Regions from separate parts of the Homo sapiens genome. Here region 1 is linked to region 2. Evidence: fine-mapped expression QTL. A gene starts in region 2. The other region holds a variant in brackets. All regions are shown on one strand. Distances are between the middles of the regions. Region 1 has its middle 17 kb from the start of TM6SF1. Region 2 holds the start of BTBD1 (BTB domain containing 1).

Region 1 (2,907 bases), 23 kb after region 2:
AAAATCCAGCCAAAATCCTGGTAGTGAAGCGGGAAGAATGTCTGGCTGTCTGACGATAGCCTGTGGCCTCAACAGATCATTTATATAAGAATGTGACAGAAATGTGCTAGCTATGTCATACAGTTGTGTCCAGAGATGAGGGGAAAGAGTTCATCACATTCCTATTTCAGGGAATAACACCACCAACCAGTTAGCCACATGCTGTGGTAGAAACTAGCTAAGCCCCAGTTGCTATCCTGCTATCCTGGTCTACTCATCAATAGCTAGGTGAATTTGGGCAAGGATTTTTGTTTGTTTGTTTGTTTGTTTGTTTGTTTTTAATTGAGACAGAGTTTCTCTCTTGTTGCCCAGGCTGGAGTGCAGTGGCGCAATCTCAGCTCACTGCAATCTCTGCCTGCTGGGTTCAAGTGATTCTCCTGCCTCAGCTTCCTGAGGAGCTGGGATTACAGGTGCGCGCCACCACGCCCAGCTAATTTTGTATTTTTAGTAGAGACGGAGTTTCACCATGTTGGCCAGGCTGGTCTCAAACTCTTGACCTCAGGATATCTGGCTGCCTTGGCCTCCCAAAGTGCTAGGATTACAGGCGTGAGCCACTGTGCCCGGCCTGGGCAAGGTTTTAAACCTTGCTAGGTTTCTATTTCTTCTTCTGTCAAATGGGGATAATAACATTGTTGTTTACCTACCTAGGATAACATAAAAGATCAGATTGTTCAATTAGACTCACAGGACTCAGTAATCTTATCCAGTATTGGCCTTTACTGAGAATTCGAAAGATACACATGATATTGAGACTTGGGCCAAGCACAGAGATGCTGAGGACCACCAGTGCAGCTCCCGGTCCTCTCTCGCCATATTAGGATGCACCCTGGCACAAAATGGACATAGGAGGTTTTTAAGTGATGCATGCAGGATATAACTTACACAAAGAGGTCAGGAAACACCTTCGTTTTATACTTCAGTAATTACACAGCTGACAGATCAGCTATATCCTGGTAAATTATTGCATAAATAAGGGCTTTTTGTTATCTTTCTGATTGTAAATGCCATCAATAAGTATTTAGGAGATTGGGCCAGGTGTGGTGGCTCACGCCTGTAATCCCAGCACTTTGGGAGGCTGAGGTGGGCGGATCACAAGGTCAGGAGATTGAGACCATCCTGGCCAACATGGTGAAACCCTATCTCTACTAAAAATTAGCTGGGCGTGGTGGTGCCTGCCTGTAGTCCCAGCAACTCAGGAGGCTGAGGCAGGAGAATCGCTTGAACCTGGGAGGTGGAGGTTGTAGTGAGCCGAGATTGTGCCACTGCACTCCAGCCTGGCAATAGAGTGAAACTCTGTCT[C/CA]AAAAAAAAAAAAAGCATTTAGGAGATTGACCTGGGTCAATTCTTTTTTCTTTTTGTCCCCTTTCCTCAGATGTTCTGAAGGTTGGAAATATGACTTACTACCATTACCTAACAGTTATTTCTTCTTCTTTCCTAGTTAATACAACCTGATTTCATTTGGGCCACAACATGTACAAAGAAGGAATACCTGTCCCCAGGCCTCAGAGAAAAGTCATGATTGATTGAAGCTTAGCCCGTTCCCCTGCTAGAGATTGCTTCTGAACTCAGCATGTGGCCAATTATGGCCAATGAGATGGAAGAGTCTGGAAGCAGGCTTTTGGAAAGATTCTTGTAGCCTAGTTAAAGATAAAATCCCGGAAAGGGAAAAGCCTTGTGTTGACAAGCTTAAGAGTGAAAAACCAACGTGTTGAGGAGGAGGATTAGGAAGACATAAAGAGGCCGGGTTCTTAATGACATCCTTGAGCCACTGCAGCTAAAAAGGAAACTTCTTTCTCCAGGATTCTTATGTCAGATTTTCAAATGTCTTCATGGCTTAAACCAGATTTATGCATTCTGTTACCTGTAACTTCATGTGTTCCCAGTGAAAACAGTACCTTGTAGAGTTGCTTGAGAATCAAGACAGGCACTGAAAGTAATGCGTCAAGCATACAACAAGTTTCTATCTTATAAGCACTACCCAACATCTTTTTCTCCTTTCTTCCCTGGTTTATAAAACTTGATTTTATTTGGGCAGCCACAAGCACAAGGAAGGAGGACCTTGTTTCCAGGCCTCAGAGAAGAACCCAAATAGGTCTCAGCATCTCTCAGTATACCTTAGTCCTTTTAGTTCCCTTTCCTTTTCCTTCTCCCAGCCAGCTGTCATCCCTAAATTCTTCTGTGGTCCATGTTTCTCAACATCCATTTAATCATCAAACTCTTAGATTTGATTCCTAATTAACCTTTCCTTTCTCCTTTCGTTGCAGCCGCCATAGTCAAGACCCGTTCATTTGTAGCTTAGATTACTGCTCTTCTCAGCTCTTTGCTGCCTAGTTCATACCCCCTCACCTCATTCTCTGTATATCTACCAGACTAAGCTACTAAAATGGCCAAGCTGAGCATGTCACTCCTCTGCTTAAAAGTTTCACTAGGATGGGCGCAGTGGCTCACACCTGTAATCCCAGAAATTTGGGAGGCTGAGGCGGGCAGATCACCTGAGGTCAGGAGTTCGAGACCAGCCTGGACAACATGGAGAAACTCCATCTCTACTAAAAATACAAAATTAGGCCGGGCGCAGTGGCTCATGCCTGTAATCCCCGCACTTTTGGAGGCCAAGACGGGCAGCTCACAAGGTCAGGAGTTCAAGACCAGCCTGGCCAGCATGGTGTAACCCCGTTTCTACTAAAAATACAAAAATTAGCCAGGCATGGTGGTGTGTGCCTGTAGTCCTCAGGAGGCTGAGGCAGGAGAATCGCTTGAACCTGGGAGGCGGAGCTTGCAGTGAGCCGAGATCAGGCTACTGCACTCCAGCTTGGGCAACAGAGTGAGACTCCATCTCAAAAACAAACAAACAAACAAACAAAACACAACAAA
Region 2 (2,907 bases):
CATTAGATGTCAATCTACTATCCTCAAATAACCAACAAGCAAATTCTAACATCAAGGGAGGGATTCATTTATAAGCAAATGTGACCTTGTGTGTAGAAACACAAAGCAGGTAAAGCCTCACTTGTCTGTTTTCGTATTTACTTTCCTGGGTCTTGACAACTAATACGTTAATGAAAAACAAAAACAAAAACAAAAAAGTGGCCAGGCGCGGTGGTTCACGCCTGTAATCCCAGCACTTTGGGAGGCCGAGGTGGACGGATCGCTTGACCCCAGGAGTCCGAGACCAGCCTGGGCAACATAGTGAAACCCTCTCTCTACCAAAAATAAAAATAAAAAAAATTAGCCGGGCGTGGTGGCGCGTGCCTGTAGTCCCAAATACTCGGGAGGCTGAGGTCGGAGCATCACCTGAGCCCGGAGAGGTCGAGGCTGCAGTGAGCCATGATCGCGCTACAGCATTCCAGCCTGGGCAACAGAGCAAGACCTTGTCTCAAAAAAAGCGGGGGGAAGGGGGTGACAATAACCCCAAAACATCAGTCCTGCAAGATTTTTCAACTACTCTCTTCCCCCAAACAAAAACATAAAACTTCGCAAATGGGCAATCAGGACAACCTGATCTGCCCCTCTATCCTTGCCACTTGTCTAATTCTGAAGTCTGAGCGACAATCCATAATTGGAATGCGAAACGCCTTTCAATGGTAAAACGCACGCTTGCCTAATGAAGACACTAACGTTTAGTTGGCGACTGAGCCGTCCTGGTTCACAGATTTCGATTTCGACCCTCCGGAGCATCAACGGCTCGGGAGGAAACTGAGGCCCCGGGCGGGTCAGAAGAGCCCAGCCCAAGGTCATCCGGGAGTCCGGGTAGGCCGGGCCCCGGGGATCTCCCAGCCCGGCCCGGCCCGGCCCGGCCCGGCCCGGCCCGGCCCGCGCTGCCGCTCACCTCAGCAGCGCCAGGAAGGCTGCGGGCTCCACGTCCGGCAGCTCGATCTCGGCCGACGTGGTGGCCATGCCGCCGTTGAACATGGCGTCAAAGACGGCGCTGCCGGCCGCCAGCACGAAGCGGTGGGCGGGGATGCGCTGCGGGCCCCCAGCGGCGGCGGCGCCGCGACCCTTGCCCAGTACGAAGCGCACATCGCTCAGCAGCTCCGAGTTGAAGAGGAAGGCGAAGCGCTCCTTCAGCGACGCCTTGGTCGCCTGCCAGTTGTAGAGAGGTTCCCGCTGCAGGGGGAGCAGGGGCCCCAGAGAGGACGGTGAGGGCGGCGGCGGCGGCCCCGCGGGGCCCGGCTCCGCCTCAGCCCCCGACGCCTGCTCCCCAGCTGCGGCAGGCCCGAGTGAGGCCATCCTCCAGCTGCGCGGTTGCCCACGTTATGGACAAAACTCCGCCGCCATCGCCCAGGCCGCCTCCGGAGGCCGGCGCTGCCTCCCTGCCTTCCGGGAAAGGCGCTTCCGGGGGCCTCGCGCCTCCGCAGGCCCCTCCCTGACCGCGCGCGCCCCCGCACGCCCGGGTTGCCGCTGTGCGCGGCCGCGGGAGGTGTAACAGGACTGGACTCCCGGCAGCCCCAGGGCAGGGGCGTGGGGAGCTGGTCCTAGCTCAGCGCTCCCGGAGGTGGAGCTTCTGCAGGCTGGGTGCTGCCGGGCCTACGGGCACCCACCCCCTGGCTCAGTGCCCTGGGTATTCTGACTCAGTAGGTCTGGGGTAGGGCCTGAGAATTTGTAATTTTAAGATGCATCGTGGATCTGCAGGCGGCTCTCACGGCTGCCTTTTTCTTCCTGCAGGCCCCTTATCACCAAGTCCAGCGCCCCCATTGTGTATCTGGGACATGTCCCAAGGCCTGTCCCGAGGAGTGTTTTGCCTGGAAGTGGAGGGGCAGGAAAGTATGGCCAAGGGAACACGTGAGGGAGGGGATGACATGACTTCCCACAACCCTGTACCCCAAGCGTGGCCAAGTCGCCGCTCCAGAAGGCCGCGAAACCCGTGGAAATTCCGGAAGCAGAGGTGGAAGGCTTAGAACCCCAGTGACCTCTCCCCAGGTCCGCAGGTCCCTTTCCCTTCTAATTGACCCTTTGGTTCCGTCCTCTGGGCCTAAGAGACATTTCCTTCTACTGCTTCCACCCCTGTATTTGAAACCCCTCGTGCTTGCCCACCTTCTCTTGTAGCGCTTTTCAGTCCTTGCACTGAACCACTGCCTAAGCTTGAAATTTAAAAAATTAAAAACTAAAACACACACACAATGGAAAAGGCTGTATTATCCCTTCCCAGGCAGTATTTACAACCCGGTCATCATGATTGGGGGACCGAGGCCTTCCTTTTTCTCCCTTCAGTGAGGCAGGCCCTGAGTTAAGTCAGCTGTCAAAAGCAGAACGTAGAAAACCCAAGAAATAGTCCTTGACCAGGCACGTATAGTTGGAAACACCTGTTCTTTGCAGGAAGAGCCTTACAGATTACAAATGCCGTCAAGTAAATAGTAAACCCCAAACCTGGGTTTCTCCTGTAAAATCACTCCACTTGTGAAACCACCAGAGGGGACTTCCAGCTGTTAGGCATTTAGAATGGTAACTTCTTTGGGAGAGGAACGTGCTTGGGAAGAGACTTAAAGTAGTAGGGGCTGAAATAGTGGATGCACAACCCCTTCCCCATTGCCAGCCGGCAATTCCTAAAGACAAAGGGACATCATGCTACTAATGATACCATTATCACACCTAACAAAATTAACCATATCATCAAATCATCTATATATGATTTTTTTTTTTTTGAGACGGAGTCTCGCTCTGTTGCCAAAGCTGGAGTGCAATGGCATGAAGTCTGCCTTCCGGGCTCAAGCGATTCTCCTCCTCAGCCTCCCGAGTAGCTGGGGTTACAGGTGCGTGTCACCACATCCAGCTAATTATTTGTATTTTTAGTAGAGA

What was found. PIP is the estimated chance that this variant, and not a neighbour inherited with it, causes the effect.
Region 1: its variant is the best candidate, but not a certain one, in a credible set for the expression of BTBD1 in whole blood (INTERVAL, PIP 0.61).

The regions. Positions count from the first base shown.
Region 1 is chr15:83,089,045-83,091,951 of GRCh38, forward strand. No RefSeq gene overlaps it. Among named protein-coding and RNA genes, the nearest start is that of TM6SF1, 17 kb to the right of the region's middle. The variant C/CA (reference allele first, on the strand shown) is at 1,339.
Region 2 is chr15:83,065,811-83,068,717 of GRCh38, forward strand. It overlaps BTBD1 (BTB domain containing 1), which reads right to left and starts at 1,442. Exons shown (of 8, transcript NM_025238.4): 1 at 941-1,442. The coding sequence starts at 1,341. It overlaps MIR4515 (microRNA 4515), which reads left to right and starts at 1,525; the gene lies at 1,525-1,605. RefSeq lists silencers at 760-929, 1,170-1,649 and enhancers at 1,710-1,829, 1,840-1,889.